Linked DNA regions of Homo sapiens: region 2 is linked to region 1. The links come from fine-mapping of genetic effects on plasma protein levels. A gene starts in region 1. The other region holds a variant in brackets. All regions are shown on one strand. Distances are from middle to middle. Region 1 holds the start of SKAP1 (src kinase associated phosphoprotein 1). Region 2 overlaps SKAP1 (src kinase associated phosphoprotein 1).

Evidence for each region. A credible set is the group of variants that fine-mapping cannot tell apart. PIP is the chance, under the fine-mapping model, that this variant and not a neighbour inherited with it causes the effect. Protein levels are from antibody-based Olink assays in UK Biobank. Linkage for the fine-mapping came from a reference panel and not from the study's own genotypes, which makes the PIPs less certain.
Region 2: its variant is the best candidate, but not a certain one, in a credible set for the plasma level of the SKAP1 protein (UK Biobank, PIP 0.68).

The regions. Positions count from the first base shown.
Region 1 is chr17:48,425,359-48,433,660 of GRCh38, reverse strand. SKAP1 (src kinase associated phosphoprotein 1) reads left to right here and starts at 3,447. Exons shown (of 13, transcript NM_003726.4): 1 at 3,447-3,586. The coding sequence starts at 3,541. RefSeq lists a silencer at 3,274-3,533.
Region 2 is chr17:48,261,907-48,270,249 of GRCh38, reverse strand. All of the region lies in intron 4 of SKAP1 (src kinase associated phosphoprotein 1), which reads left to right. Among named protein-coding and RNA genes, the nearest start is that of SKAP1-AS2, 28 kb to the left of the region's middle. The variant GCTTGCTTT/T (reference allele first, on the strand shown) is at 4,741.

The DNA of each region.
Region 1 (8,302 bases):
GAATTCCAGATTAATTTCATGGCCTCTGCTCCAAAGGACCTCTTATCTGTGAGGGCCTTGTATTTTAACCTTGTCATTCTTTTGTTGTTTGTCTTTAAGGGGCAGGCAGCTAAGAAGAGGATGCTAAGATCTTGCTGGAATTGGGTCTGGGGGGGACGGGAAGAAAAGGGAGGCAGACAGACCTGAGATTTGTGTATTCTGTTCTGTCCTCCTGCCTGTGTGCAGAGACAGCTGGCTGCTTTCTTCCATGACAGCCACATAGTACCCAGCCACACAGAACAGGACCCAGGCAGGGACTCAGCTACTGCCAACCTCTCCAGATTGCTTTGATATTTCTGACAGAACAGTAAAGGACTCGTGACTATCACGTTTTGCCTTGCCTCTCTTCACCTCCTCTAAGACTCCTCCATGTGGTTTCCATGGCTACCCCCAATCAGATTTGGCTTCCTGCGAAATTGGATTTCAAAAAAGGACAAGGCTTCAAAGGAATTTGTCCATTTAACAGAATGTCATTAGGAGTGGGGCTGACTGCTGAAACAGGGTCCTCAGATGATTAAGGAAGGGCTGCGTTCATGTGTGGAGGCAGATTTCTGTCTGCAATGAGGAACCTTGATGCAACATGACAATACCGTATTGGAATCTGCCAGTCACTCACTACATACTACCCGACTGTGCACCTCCCTCTACCCCTGTCTCTCTAAAACCCAGAGATTCTTGTAAGGAAGGATGCATATAGAATACGTACACTGTGAGTTTTTGGTGTAAGTAAGCTATGACAGGCAGTGAAGCCTGCAAAGAAGTGCAATTACCTGGGTTTACTGCTCTTTATCAAACAATTCATTAGCTGGTAGCTTATATTAGTATGTGACACCATATCCTTGAAGAAGAGGGGGAGGTTATCAAATTTTCTTCTGTTGCCAAGAAGGAAAGCAAGGCAAAGTTTAGGTTGACATATGGGGAGACTTTGCTGCCCTTGCTGTATTTTTTGTGTAACAGTTTAGATTTACCAAAAAAAAATTGAGATGATAGCACAGACAGTTCCCATGTATCTTTCCTTGCTTTTTAGTATGCCTCATAAGTACTTCAAAATGATTCTAGAGCAGCTACAATTTTATAGGTGAAGTGGTGAAGTTGGTAAAAATGCCATGGGGGTACCTGGTACTTGATCCCAAGCCTGAAAGGGGTAGTCTGCCCATTGCTATACTTTCTTTCTTTCTTTCTTTCTTTTTTTTGAGATGGAGTCTTGCCCTGTCACCCAGGCTAGAGTGCAATGGCCTGATCTCGGCTCACTGCAACCTCCGCCCCCCGGGTTCATGTGATTCTCCTGCCTCAGCCACCCGAGTAGCTGGGATTACAGGCGTGCACCACCATGCCCAGCTAATTTTTGTATTATTAGTAGAGACGGGGTTTCACTATATTGGTCAGGCTGACCTCAAACTCCTGACCTCGTGATCCGCCTGCCTTGGCCTCCCAAAGTGCTGGGATTATAGGCGTGAGCCACTGTGCCCAGCCACCCATTACTATACTTTCTCAGGGCAGGAAGGAGGATGAGCAGGAGCCAGATACCCCAGAGAGGCTCATGCCAGCCTCTGTCCCCTCACCCCAATTTACTGCAGCTTGTAGGTGGGTCATGTGACACTGAAACCAATGCACCACTGCTTTTCAGATGGCAGGATGCACTGTACTCCTTAAAGGATCACACCCTCATCTTTGAGGCTGTATCTCTGGATGGGAAACAGTACAAGGAGGCAGGCACTTTTATCACACTCATCCTTCTCGATGGTTTCTTCTTACTGCTCTTGCCCCGTCTGCTAGATTGAGTCCATCATTATTCCCCTTATGGCTGTTGTAAAAACCATTTTACCCACTTCCCCCTGTGTCTTTTCCCACCACTCCTAATCTTTTCTACATATTCTGTAGGTTGAGTCTGAGAATAGAAATGCCATTTTTTACAAAGAAGGAAAAAGGCAGAGGTGGAGATGTGTGAGGCCACATACCACCCCGGAGCTCTGGTTAGGTCATTCCCAATCTCAAAAATTGTCAATGGCTCCCCAGTGCCCTCTCAATTAAGTTCAACATTCCTATTCTGACTTTCAAGTCCCTTCACAGTAGAGCTGCAGTTTATCTTGACAACCATAGTCTTTCTACAACATCCAGTAAAAGAGGGCTACTAACTATTCCTCAAGCTGGTGAGGGCTCTTCCATCTTTCTTTACTCTGGTCCTTCCACCTGGAAAGTCCTCTGCCCCTTCAAAGTCTGGTGTGTTTTTCAGAGCCCATCTCAAACACCACATGCACCTTTAAACACTCACATGCACACTGGCACTTCTTTTTATTTTCTTTCTTTTTTAAGAGACAGGGTCTTGCTCTGTTGCCCAGGCTGGGGTACACTGGGGTGATCATAGTTGGCTGTAACCTCAGATTCCTGGGCTCAAGTGATCCTCCTGCTTCAGCCTCCCAAAGTGCTGTGATTACAGGTGTGAGCCACAATGCCTGGCCTCTTCCCTCCTTTTCTGGTATTCAGCTCCCTTCTTTTATCAACCATAGCACTTTATACTTTTTTCATGGCAGTTGACCTATTGTACTTAAAAAACCTCTTTATTTTGAGAATTATAGATTCACAGAGAGTTTCAGAAATAATAGAGGAACTCTGTCTACCTTTACCCAGTTTCCCCCAAGGGTAACATCTGGCACTATTACAGTACCATGTCACAACCAGGACACTGACACCAACTGTCCCTTGAATGAGACCGTGTGATTTTGTCCTTCACTTTCCTCCCTTCCGCAGCTCCTGGAGGGAAAGGGCTCTGTTCTCCTCTCCCTCAGCTTTCTCCCTGTGTTACCCCTTCCTTTCCTCAGGGCCTTTCCATCCTGAGGGAGAACAGCACAGTTTGGTTTCCTGTGTCCCTTGCTGCCACGCTGCCGCGATTCTCCCAAATGTTGGTGTCCTTATATTGCTTATTGGGAATTAATCATTTCCTTTCAACATTGTGGCTTCCCAAAGAGCGAAGTTTTGCCCTCTTTTCTGGGGATGGAGATGTGAACTGGACCGGCAATTGAGGGGTGCTATGCTTGACGGGGATCTCTTCCTTGGATTCTGCCTCCCTGCACCCTACTTCAGGCACCCCGTGGTCTTTCAAATCTGCCACCGTGAGGTCAACTGTTCGGTGCTTAGGATGGAGTGTCCAAAGCCGTGGGTCCTTTGAGCCTTGTGAAGTCTTTTGTTTTGGTGGGTGCTGGAGGGGCGCACCTTTGGCCTCGCACGGTGCGGTGCTTCCGGCACCCCCAATCCTTCTACCGTGGGGCTCCGGCGTGAGCGCCACGTGCACCCACGCCCCGCGCCCCGTTCCGGTCCCCGCCTGCCGCCCGCGCCACTTCCTGACGCGCCCGGGGACCCACGGCCCCGCCCCGCGGCCGGGCTGGGCGGGCGGCGACCGCGGCTGAGGTACAGGTGCCTCGCGGTGCAGCCGGGTCGCCTTCCAGCCCGTCCGCCTCCCGACCAGGGCCCGCGCCCCGTCCCGCCTCTCTCCCGCCCAGCCAAATGCAGGCCGCCGCCCTCCCTGAGGAGATCCGTTGGCTCCTGGAAGGTAACGCCCTGGCGCAGGCCCCCTCCAGTGCTGAGCCGAAGGCCGAAAGGGGACACCAGGCCTCCCACGGCCAGGCTTTCTTTACGGCTTCGTCACTCACCTCCTTCTAGAACCTTAAGGCTTCTAGAGCCCTCAACTCCCTAGAGCCAGCTTTCCATCCTCTCACCTCAGGGCCCCTTTCACTCCCTGGAGTCCCACATCTTCTTTTGCCTTGAGGCACCTCCACGCCTCCACTTCACCTCCCCGGCTTCTAAAGTCCTCAGGCCAGGTTCTTGGTCCCCCATGCCACCTTGCCTGGTCTCCGACCTGTCCCTTTCTCCAAAGGACTGCCCTACATCTGTAGGGTTTCCCGTCCCCCTCCTTCCCCAGCCACGACTTCCTCACCTCTCACAGAAGACCCCAAACCTTCCTGCTTAGAGGTCCCCGAGGCTCTCCAGGGGGCTGCGAGGGGCTCATGGGATCCCCATGGGCCAAGGCCAGGTGGTTGACGTGAGTTTTTGTCAGTGCGAAAACCCCAGCCCTCCCTTTATCACCCTGCAGACGTCTAGGGGTCTCACCCACCCCAAGGCAGGCTCATTCTCAGTATGGGATTTCCTCCTTTTCTAGAAGTGCCCCCATTGTGGTGTGTTCACCTTCCAACTCCCATTGTGGTGTGTTCACCTTCCAACTACAGTGTCTAAGCGGTGGTTTAAAGAGTTCCGGCCATCCCCGTCAACACTCAACACACACTGCCAACACTCCAAAGAGATGTCACAAAGAGACGTTGCTAACGGGCAGTTTCATCTGCTGGGTTTCGTGGTGGAAGTCACTTTTACTTGCTTTCCTGTAACTAACCTTCCAGGGAGGACAGAGGCCTGGAATCTGCAGTCGCATAAGGCTCCCAGGAGGAAACTATTCAGAATTAAGCCTTTTGGCATCTAAGTTGACATAGTTGACACATATTTAACAGACGGCCTGCTTTGGGCAGGTCATATTTTTGGCAAGCAGTATTTTTTTTCAGTTTCTCTCAATTTAATTGGTTTTATATCTCCATTACCTTGTTATCTCGGTATAAATGCCTCCTAATCAAATATTTGGCAAGTCCTTTTGGTCTCTGTCTGTAGCACTATTTCCATTCTGGATTGCTTCTATGTAAAAGCTGTCAGCTAGATATTTCTTTTGAGGTGAGGTTTCCAAAATCCGTTTTACTTACGATCAGAATAAATCTAAATTTTGGGGGTAGAAAACTATTTGCAGGGTAAAAGAGAATTATCTGGGTGTCTAAGAAGAAACAATCCAGCCTTTCCCTCTGTTGTTGGTTTAATATTAGGCTTGTGAAGGAAGGCTGTAATTGTCTTTGGTTTCTAGGAAAGAAGGGACTGTGGCAAAAAGTTTAACTCTGCCCTTGCATTGAAATATATAAACTGATTCTTTTTATTGGTATCTGTCATTTGATGAGAGGAAACCTATTTTATAAGCTTATTAAACTATACTTCAGTTTTGTGTCTAGGCTTGGTAGAAAATTCCTTTTTATTTTCAGAGGCTTGCAATGAAATCCATTCCTTCAGCATTTTTGATGTGCAGTTCTTCATTGTTCAAAACTGACACTTTGGTAAACAACTCATTTCTGCACCTGCCACCTTCCTTTAGCTTAGATTATTTTCTTGTTAGCTGACTGTTTTTAATTGAAGTCTTCAGATCTCCTTCTAAAGCAGAACCTTTGTTTGCTGACAAGTAGAGCGGGGTATGAATGGAGATTAATTGCATGTCGCATACTTCTGTATCAAGCTTGCTGTATCTTAACAATCTCTGTTGGTGCTCAGGTCTTTAAAATATATGGAGGAGTCTGAAACCAAATTATAAGGAGCTTCGTTGGTTAATGTATTTCTTTAAGGCTTTTTTTTTTAAGTTTGCAATTAGAACTTGAATCTGAAGTAGAGAAAAAAATGTAAAGTGTGATTCATCCAGTAATTCTATTGAAAAATGTTTGAAGATATGTTTTTTAAAGGTTCCTGTAATAATAATAGCAATATATTGGTTACAAGTTTTATTTCTTTTGGAACACAGTCGCTGGTGTAGACCAGGAGGATTATTCATTGTGTTACAAATAATCTGTCCATATTAGAAACCCAAAATGGCCATCAATTTGTTGTTTGTTGCTATTTGTCTCCCCCACCACACACTTTTTAAGGTTAACTGTTGACAATTAGAAAAAATGGAGGTCCTGATCTCTATATAGTCACTCTGTGGGAGGGAGTCACAGGATGTGAGGGCTGCAACTCTAGTGCTGCCACATGGCTGTGGGGGTGGGGTTTCCACAATGAATTACTACTTTCATAAACCAAGGCATAAGCATTTGCACAGTGATTTAACACTGGACATCACAGCCATAACTTAAGCATTTATTTATTTATAACTACACAAGCATAAATGACAGGGGCATTTTTTGACATAATGTGTGTGCTTTTAAGAATAAAATATGTAAAGCATTGTGAAAGGTAGATAACAAAATTTTGCATAATGAAGAGAACAGAAATTCCCAAGGCCTAAAATTAATTTTGTTTAAATATAAAATTTGAGACACTTGGAAATGTTTCACTCGACCTAGAAACCTCACTTCTAAAAATCTGTCACTGAAGTGAAAGGTCATGAAGTAGTATATGCACGAAGATCTATGCTAAATGTTAATAAGTTGGGAGACTCAGGGTGATGGTTGAATGAATTATGGGACATTTGTCTCATGGAATACTTCACAGCCACTAAAAGAGTATTCTGTGGATCTATATATAGGCTTGGAAAGTGTCCATGGCATATTTTTAAGACTAAAAGGCAAAATGCATGATAGTACATGTAATATCCCATTTTTGCTTGAAAACCAAAAGACAAAACAAGAAAAGCCACATATGTTATAAATATTTGTGTAAGCCTAGGAATAAGTAAAAAAGAATATATACCAGACTGTTAACATTGGCTTCCTTGAGAGAAGACTGAGAGTTTGGAGGAGGGGAGGTTATTAATTTTTATTTCATACATCTTTGTGTTGTTTGAATTGTGACAATGACCATGCATTACTTCTGTAAACAGGAAAAAATAAACAGTAAGGGTATTTAAAAGAAAAAGGAACAAAAGACAAATAGAAACTCAGAGAGGTCAGAGTGCTAACGGACCATTTACTATGCTTGTGATCATGTTTTTCTCTTTTTAGCCCTGAGGGGTATGGAAGGTGGAGAAATTAAAAAAAAAAAACACGCTATCTTGGATTTTTGGCAAATATCAAAACAGTGTGAGGTTTCTAGAGTAACTCAGGAAATAGCTTCTTTAGATAGACTCTGTCAAGCTCTCATATAGAAATAGTAACTAGTCCCCTATCAACAAATAAATACCTCATAGATAAGTAAAATGGAGGGTGCTTTCTGCTTTATTGAAAGAGGAGGAAATATTCAGGTCTGTTTTCAAATAATGGGGCTTCAGATGTAGAAGTTATCTTTTTGTTTTTGTTCTGTGATAACCACACCGAAAACAAAAACAATGAAGTGCTGGCAGTTTGCATAATCTTTGCTCCACAGATATAAACATAATCAGTCTCTTCTTCCTGGTCTTTCTAGCCCTGCTTTTGAAGTCAGAAGCAAAAGAGACAAGTATGAAGGAGGTGGAATAGATATTTCTTTGGTTCGTAGTTTGTCCTGTGTGATGGAATGGGGCCTACTGACATTACCCTGGTAGCTGATAGGTCCCAACTGCCTACATGGTACTAAATCCTGCCCAGAATATGGATTTAAGCCAAAATAACATTAACAACCTGGCTGCATGTAGTAGCAATTGCTGTGTTAATGCTGATTCTGATATGCCTATAGTTATTTATTTTTAAACTTCCTTGTAAAGAAGCAGTCATTAATCATTTCCTTCCAGATTGTTCTCCAGATCTGTATTAGTCAATGCAGTCAATCATAAAATCCGTTTCAGTATAGTAAAATTCCAACTGTGGGGAACTTGCAGAAATGAGTTGCTCTGGATAGCTGAGGAGATTCTCTTTAAGCACTCTTTTCTTCTTCTTATAAATATTTGTGATCAGGTTTTTCCTAAAATGCATTAGGAATTTTTCTTCTTTAGCCAACCAGTCTACGGCTATCTTCAAATGAACCTCTTTAGAGCACTCTTTAACTCAAAGTTGTTATAGTGAATATCTATTACCATACTTTATGGTAATATATTGTTTAGGATGTTTGGCCATAGTTGCCCCTGAACTGCTTTGTAAGTGTCTGTGTCTGCTTTATATTTTTATTTTCATTATTTTTTTCTTGCTGTTAGGCCAAGGCCTATCACTTTGCACCCTTGTCTGTGTGTCTACATTCCCAGTGCTTCTGGTACATCAGATAACCACGTTAGTTGGAATTGAGATATATGTAAAAGAAGTTACAAAGAGCTTTCTTGATGAACAAAGTACCCACACCTTTAAGTGTGGGCTTTGTAAGATGTATTTTGGCTGCTCAGAATCTTTTTTGCTTAATTTTTGAAACTGGATTGTCTTGCAGATCAGTGAGGCTACTGCTCAGTTGAATTCTGAAAAGTGAGATATAACTATAGTTCTATTCCTTTTTTATGTTAAAATTTTCTGATTATAAAAGTAATAATGCTAATTATAGAAAATTTAGAAAACACACAATAGGATACAGTTACTCAGAATCAATAATTGTTAAATTTCCATGTATTTTTCTCAGTGTTCATTATATGGATATA
Region 2 (8,343 bases), 160 kb after region 1:
ATCCAAAAGAAAAGTCACAAATACTGAGATATTTTTGATGACTTTTATTTATTTATGTTTTCCATATCGTTTAAAATTTCACTATGTTTTTCATATTTTAGGACGCAGAAAATATAATAAAGTTGTTTTCTTTTTGTTGAGACAGAGTTTCGCTCTTGTTGCCCAGGCTGGAGTGCAGTGGTGCCATCTTGGCTCACTGCAACCTCCGCCTCCTGGTTCAAGCGATACTCCTGCCTCAGCCTCCTGAGTAGCTGGGATTACAGGCATGCGCCACCATGCCTGGCTAATCTTGTATTTTTAGTAGAGACAGGGTTTCTCCATGTTGGTCGGGCAGGTCGCGAACTCCCGACCTCAGGTGATACTCCCGACCTCAGGTGATCCTCCCGCCTCAGCCTCCCAAAGTGCTGGGATTACAAGCGTGAGCCACCGCACCCGGCCTCATTTTTTAATAATAAAAAATAAATTCTTTATTAAACTCACAAATCACTTACTTTCCATCCCCACTAGATAAAAGCTCTCTTTAACTTAGTGCAGCTTATCACAGCTAGATGTAGGAGGAAGCTAAGCTAATTAATTTTGTGCCAATTTGTGAGTGATTGTTATCTCCACTAACTATCCTTCAGAACATATTTGTGTTCTCAAAATATGAATGAATCTCTAAATGAAGGCATTTAAGGTGGAATAATGATGGAGCACAATAATTTGGGCGATGTGGGTTACATAATTTTGTACAAGAATATGACCTTATAGCAGGTTAACTCTGCCTGGAAATACAGGTCCCTCAGGGTCAGCTTCCTGAAGCTCTTCCCACTTATGCCACATTCTCTAGTCCTGGTGTAGACAGATAACAGTCTCTAGTGTATCTAGTGGACTAGTATAGATCTCTAGTCCTGGTGTAGACAGATAGTTGTTACACACAGAAGTTATTTTTTGTTTTTTTTTCTCAAAGTGGTCAAATTTATTTATTTACTTTTATCACTTCTAACTTAAAATGTCCTTTCTTCTCTAGAGTTTTGTTCAACATTCAGTTCTTTTCTGGTTTTTCTATAATTTGACTTCCGTATATTTACCTTTAATTCAGGTGGAATTTATTTTGATTAGTGTGAGACAAGAATCTAAATTGATCTTGTTCCAAATTACTATTCTCTTCAAAATCATTTATTCAATCACCCTCTTCTACTTGTGGTGCATTATTTATTATATATTAGTATATTACATCTAAAATGAGCTCTTTATCCTATTCTATTGATCTATTTTTGTACCAGTACTAGGACTTATGTAGCTCTAGAATGTTTTAAGTATCGTTAGTGTCAGTCATGACTTTTCTCTTTCAAAATTTCAAAATGCTATTTTCACCCCTTTATTTTTCCTGTAAATTTCAGAATTGTTTTATCAAGTAACTTAAAAATCTTACTGTGGTTTTAGTTTGTATAGCATTACGGTTAAAAATTAACTTGAGGCCGGGCACAGTGGCTCACACCTGCGATTCCAGCACTTTGGGAGGCTGAGGCGGGTAGATCATTTGAGATCAGGAGTTCAAGACCAGCCTGGCCAACATGGTGAGACCCCGTCTCTACTAAAAATACAAAAATTAGCTGGGTATGGTGGCACCTGCCTGTAATCCCAACTACTCTGGAGGCTGAGGTAGGCGAATCACTTGAACCCAGGAGGCGGAGGTTGCAGTGAACAGAGATCACGCCACTGCACTCCAGCCTGTGCAACAGAGTGAGACTGTCTCAAAAAAAACAAAAAAAAATTAACTTGAATCTCTCCACTTCGTACCAACTCATCCTTTTCAGTCTTCCAAGTATTTTCCGCAGCAGCTCTGTGTCAGATATGACAGCAATGAATACACATTATAGGTGGTAACTCAAGGGTTTGTAAGTCAGGATTGCCTGTACTCAAGTTTTAGAAAATTGTCATTTAGGACTTTTGACTAGTAAGCACAATATGTAACACAGGTGTGGGTTTTTTGTTTTTTTTTTAAGTAGTCTTTTGTCATGTTATTATTTCAGGTCAGTATTTGGAGGGTTAGCTACTGATTGTTTGGTTGCCCAGGACTGATATCCTTTGCATCTTCTTCTCATTTTTATAATTGGCTTATTATATTGCATGAGGCCTCTTCAAGTTTTCTTTCTTTTTTTTGAAACTCTAAAGAGTAATGTCTGTCTTTCGAGGATTTGATGAGATTCATTTTGTAAAGCATTCCAAACCTTACACTGGATTATTACATTAACTACCTTTATGATCTCAGAGAAGTCATTTAAGTTCTCTGATTTTAGCTTTTCTCATCTGTAAAATGGGCATAATACAAACACAAGATAATAATGTAAAGGTACCTATAAGCAACCTCTGTATAATCACATGAGAAATGGTGTGCCTTTCCATCTCTCCCTTCCCTCCATTTATCTGTTGGTATCTATTTTGTCAGGTCCTCCCCTGCTTTGGTTCTGTAATTACCCTTCCTAACGGAGTTCCTAAACATCTCCCATGGCTCAATACTTAAGAGCAAGTGGTGAAAAGAACAGAAATATAGTAAATAATTTTGTAAGCAATCTAGTATTAAATTAATTGATATTAAATTAATCACAAATCATTTTAATAGTAGCAAATTAAACTAAGCAAGTGTGTTTGCTCTTTTAAAAAAATGGGTTTAGAAAATTATCATTTTCTAAGTTATTAATGATTAATATAGGGCAATAATTTGGGTGTTGACCTTAAGGACTTGTGTATAGAGTATCTATTAGTACCAAGTGGTAATTTGAAGTATAAATGCTGATTGTATCACCTTAGAGCCAAAATCATTGATTAAACAGGCATATTCAACATTAAAGTGTGTGTGTGTGTTTAATTAAAATTGATTTTGGAAGAATTCTCCAACTACTGTTCCTTTTGTTCAACATTATTTTTTGATTGTGAGAACAAAGTAAAATTGAGGTATTGTTTAAGTTAAATCATGTATGTTGAGAAGTATCTAATTTTGTCTTTTTTTCTCTAAGGCCTAATAACTTATATATCTACTTCATGTCTTAATTTCACTTAAAGCTAAAAAAGGCTTACTAGTGTTCATAATTCAAAAGTTGGAAATTTATCAGAAGATCCTAAATGCTGTAGGAACATTCAGAGCCCTGAGTATAGGGAAAGATGTGGAAAACAAATTTGAGGAAAATAATTATTGGCTTGGCATCACATTTTTTTCATGATAAAATGATATTCTATGTGCTAATTCTGCCATCTGCTATGTTCTATGAGGGCTTTCCTTCAAGCAGTGAAAGCATTTCGTGTTGAGTGTTAGTCTAGTCACAGAAAGAAAGAAAATTCGTGTATATTTGGACATTTCCACTTCATTCACCCAATAATTCTCTCTAGTAATTGTAAAATAGAAATATCATTTTTAAATTTCAAAAAAGAGAAAAAGAGGAATAAGAAAAGGAAAACAGGGCCGGGCACGGTGGCTCATGCCTGTAATCCCAGCACTTTGGGAGGCCGAGGCTGGTGGATCACGAGGTCAAGAGATCGAGACCATCCTGGCCAACACAGTGAAACCCTGTCTCTACTAAAAATACAAAAAATTAGCCGGGCGTTGTGGCAGGCGCCTGTAGTCCCAGCTACTCGGGAGGCTGAGGCAGGAGAATGGCGTGAACCTGGGAGGCGGAGCTTACAGTGAGTCAAGATTGCGCCACTGCACTCCAGCCTGGGTGACAGAGTGAGACTCTGTCTCAAAAAAAAAAAAAAAGAAAGTAAGAAAAGAAAAAAAGAAAAGGAAAACAGAATTTCTAAAATTAAATTGCTTTCCAGCCACAGCCTTGATTTCTTGAACTAACGGTTTCAATAGTGTATTTATTGTTATGTATAGTATAATTCGTATTTTACAGGCAACAACTATCCATCTGTTCTGATAGGTGGAAACTGTCTTTAAATAATAAAGGAGCTCCTTTCTGACACAAATGCTCTCTACCTTTGAACTAGAAATATGCAGGATGATGTTTGCACCAGCCTAACAATTTACATTAAGATCTATTTGATATAGCTTATAAAATCTATTATTTTTGCCAAATACTTCAGTTGAATAGACTAGGCTAGTGTGTGTGTGTATGTGTGTGTGTGGGTGTGTGTAGGTGTGGGTGTGTGTTTAGATTATCTCGGAAATATTTCCAGCTCACTCACAGGTTAATAATCATACAGTGATGTCAGCCAAACCAAGTGCTGACAAGGAAATGAGAGCCCTGTTCAGGAGAGAATGAGTAAATATCCCAAGAGAGGAATCAAACAGCAAGCAGTCATTTTTCATAAAGAGAAAAATCACTAAACTAAAGAAAAGAGGTTTTAAAAATAAGTTAAGTTGAAAACTTGGACAACCTAAACAGACATGCAGATGTGAAGATTCTAACAGGGGAGGCATTTGGAGCATGGCCAGCTCCCTGTTCCACCTGCCACAGGAGTTTGCCTTTGGGCAGATACAGCTCCCAAAGGTGTTTTCTCCCTAGTTTCATGGGGGGAGGGAAAGAGAAAGGTTACAGTTCGGGTGTGTTAGACACACCTCTAGCCAGAGTGGTGTTCTGAGTTATTCACATTGTTGATGACAACAATACTAGAATAAAATAAAATGTGAAAACTGTGTGCTGATTTTTAAGTACCACGTCAATATGCTTAAAAAATAATTTGAGGTTTTGTGTGTCTTTTCTGAACACAGTAACCACACACCACAGTGTCATAGCTTGCTTGCTTGCTTGCTTGCTT[GCTTGCTTT/T]TTTTTTTTTTGAGACAGGCCCAGGCTGGAGTGCAGTGGTGCGGTCTCAGCTCACTGCAACCTCCGCCTCCCAGGTTCAAGTGATTCTCCTGCCTCAGCCTCCCAAGTAGCTGGGATTACAGGCATCTGCTACCATGCCGGGCTAATTTTTTGTATTTTGAGTAGAAATGGGGTTTCACCATGTTGGCCAGGCTGGTCTTGAACTCCTGACCTCGTGATCCGCCTCCCTCAGCCTCCCAAAGTGCTGGGATTACAGGTGTGAGCCACCGCACCCAGCCATAGCTTTCTTACTAATTAAAAATTCCCAGATTTAGAGCCTTTGGAGCTTCAGTATGAACTAACTTCCCAAATTAAAACTGGATTCAGGTACGTCTGTTAACAGATTGGAATTCATTAAATCCCACCACAGACAAATCCTATAAAAAGTGTATATTGTTTCAAATAGCTGGAAAGGAGAGCAGCCTTCCCCATCACTCACCAGAGCTGTGGCTCACCCCAGTAGAGTCATGTTTTTAGCAAGGTTCCTGTGGGAGACCTGTTTATGAAAGTGGCATTTGTGATTCAGACTTCAGCTCCCCATGCCAGCTTCGGAAAGTCAAACAGATGTTTCCTCGTTGACTGCAGCATAGCTCATCACTTATCCCAAGAGGAAAATCAGAAGAGGCTGGGGACAAGTACAGTTCTGTCAGCCACAACCACAAGAAAATGGAGATGGAGGGTGTGTGTGTGTGTGTGTGTGTGTGTGTGTGTGTGTGTTTTGTAGATTTGATTAAATGTAAGTTTAAGTATTGCTTTATTTAAAGATAGAATGATTCATCATCTATAGAAAATTTTATCCTCTACCTAAATTTCCTTTTCTACTCCCTTTTCCCTCCCCATTTCCTGGCAAAGTTCAGTATCTTTATGGGTCTCTTTGGAGTACAATCTTTGTGCTTTTCAGTTTTGCCTTGGATTAATAGGTTGTCTGAAAGCAAAGCTTAGCTCCTGATTTGTTTTATAAGAATAATAAGACCAAAGTTACTTTTCATTCACACATCAAAACACATGCATACCAAGAAAACAAATAAAATGTACATTGAATCTCATATACCACAGTAATGTGGCCTGGGAATTAAACTCATTAAATGGATTTCAAAGAACTGGGTAGTATGTAGTGGAAAACAATTTTGCAGTAAGCCTGAACTAACATTAGGTAGAACATAGTAAGACCTCTTTATTTCTGATCTCTGTGTGTGTGTATATATATATGTATAAACATATATATGTATACATTTTGTATATATATATAAAGTAGTGTTGCTGATTTTTAAGCTAGATATCAAATGCTTTAGAAAATACAAAAAATCAATTTTAACCATTTCCATGTTTTTGTTTTGGACATTTATTAGATATAATCTTGCCTAATTGTAGTCTAAAGTCAGATTTTTAAGTTAGATAAAAAAAAAAAAGCTGATGTCTCTTTGCTTGGATTGAATTCCTCTAGTCCTAGGCCCTAAAACAGTAGAAGGGTTGCGGCTGGTTTAGAAGTTTCTCTGCAAATGTACGTCTCTGTCTCTCCCTTTCAGACACTCTCGTTTGCTCTCCTTTCTTGCTCTGTGCAAACGCAGAGTGGTGTCTGTGTTTCAGGAAAAGAATGTGTGTTAAAAGAACTAATGGTCCGACTGTCCATCAGACTGGGCAGCAATGGAGGTCATCTGGCGGTCAAAACCAAATAATTTCAGCCTGTTCCTAAAGCCCCTGAAGCTGTTGACTCGATGACTGGAGTTCACCGCCTCTTGTTGCTTCTGTATCCTCTGAAACCTGGGACCTTTTTTTTGGAGACAAGAACGGACATATTTTCTCCATAGCAACTGTGTGCACAGTGCCCACCATTCAGCATTTGCTCAGGTTAGCTTGGCTAAAGTATACAGTCAGTGCTCCCTCTTGATACGTGTCTGCCCTGAATAGAAGATAGATCAGATTCTAAACCTAGAGGCCCCCAAAATATTGGAAGAGTCAGGATACTTGTGCATGTTTGAAGCTCATTGTTATACAGAAAATTTAAATATTTAAAAATAGAAAATATTTGTCTGCTTTTATAAAGAGACCCAATGTTCTTAATGCAAAACTTTCTACAGGCACATATTTTAAGGTGACTTCCAAGTTTCCACATTCATATGGAACAGATGGGAATGGAAGTAGTTTCAGTGTGCTGACAACTCCATTAAAAATGTTTTAAAATCCATAATCCATAAATCTGAACCACATATTGGTTATACTCATAGCCCTTTCAGTATTTCTTGTACCCTATTTGTGAATACCACCACCTGCTGGTAGTTAATGACAAGCTCTCACTTTGTTTACTGAAGAATCAACCTAAAAGTCAGTATTAAGTAAAATTTAAATGTTTTTAAGTAGGTACAATTTTGAGGTGAAAATCTATTTACTGTGTTAGTTTGAAACATCCTAACCACAATTAATTTGCAAAAACTTTTAAACAGACATTTGAAAAAAAATGCACATGAAATACTGTTTTGAAATGAAAGCTATTCTTAAATGATAACAATTTTTATTATCTTTTAGCTTCTTTTTCCTTGCTGACAACATTTCAAAGTAATGTTACAGATATCCACACCTTCAAGTCTGAGTTTCATCTCTTCTACTTCTTTTGTTTGCCTGCTTTCTAAAAGAAGTGTGTGTGTGCAATGAAATACCAAGGAGGAGGGACAGGAAAGCATGGAAAATCTACAAGCTGAATAATTAAGTGTTGACTTCTGAAGATTATGTCTGTGACTGAGGGATTTACCACTCTTACTTTGGCATTGGCTCATAAAACATATGTTCACAAAATCTGTTTTATGGGCTTTTTAACAGGATAAGAAATTTAAAATTTACAACAGAATAGGAAAATCAAATCTTCATGCAATGAGATTACAATATACATTGTTTATTTTAATTGTTCAAGTTTTTACTCATCAAACAGAAATATACTATAATACTTTACAATAAAATATAATGTCACATTGCCCAAAACAGTGAATGACAGAATTTTGTGGATTAAGGATATGGATTAAGGTAATCCAAAACTGCAGTTTATTAAACTTCCCCCCCAAAAAACCATGTGTTGTTCTTATTCTGAAGCTATGCTCTTGGAGTTTTCTGGCTTTCTTAAAAATGCATCCCAGTCCAATTTTAATATATGCCTTTTGGTGAGTCATTTTTATGATCTCTTTGCTATCTACTGAGACTCTTAAAATGTACTGGTTTGAGGCCGAACTTGGACTGTGATTCCTTCTTCTTAAATATGGTCTTCTAACCTCCTGACTGGGGGCCTCCTGCAGGTGGATGATTCTCTCCAACCCTCCAATGTAAGAGGCTCTGCCGCCTCAGGTAGGCCCTCCATCTTCTTTGTAGGCAGCCACACTACTAATATTTTTAGATGTTTGCAGCATTCATGTCTCAATATGTTCAGTATTTCAGGCAATTCGAAGTTGCAGACCCTTGGCAGCAAGAAACAAACCCTCACTGAAACTTTCTTTTACTTACATAGCCTGTGCTGAGTTTTATGTGTTATCTGGAGAAGAATGAAATTGATCCAACGCCTTTCCAAGAGGAA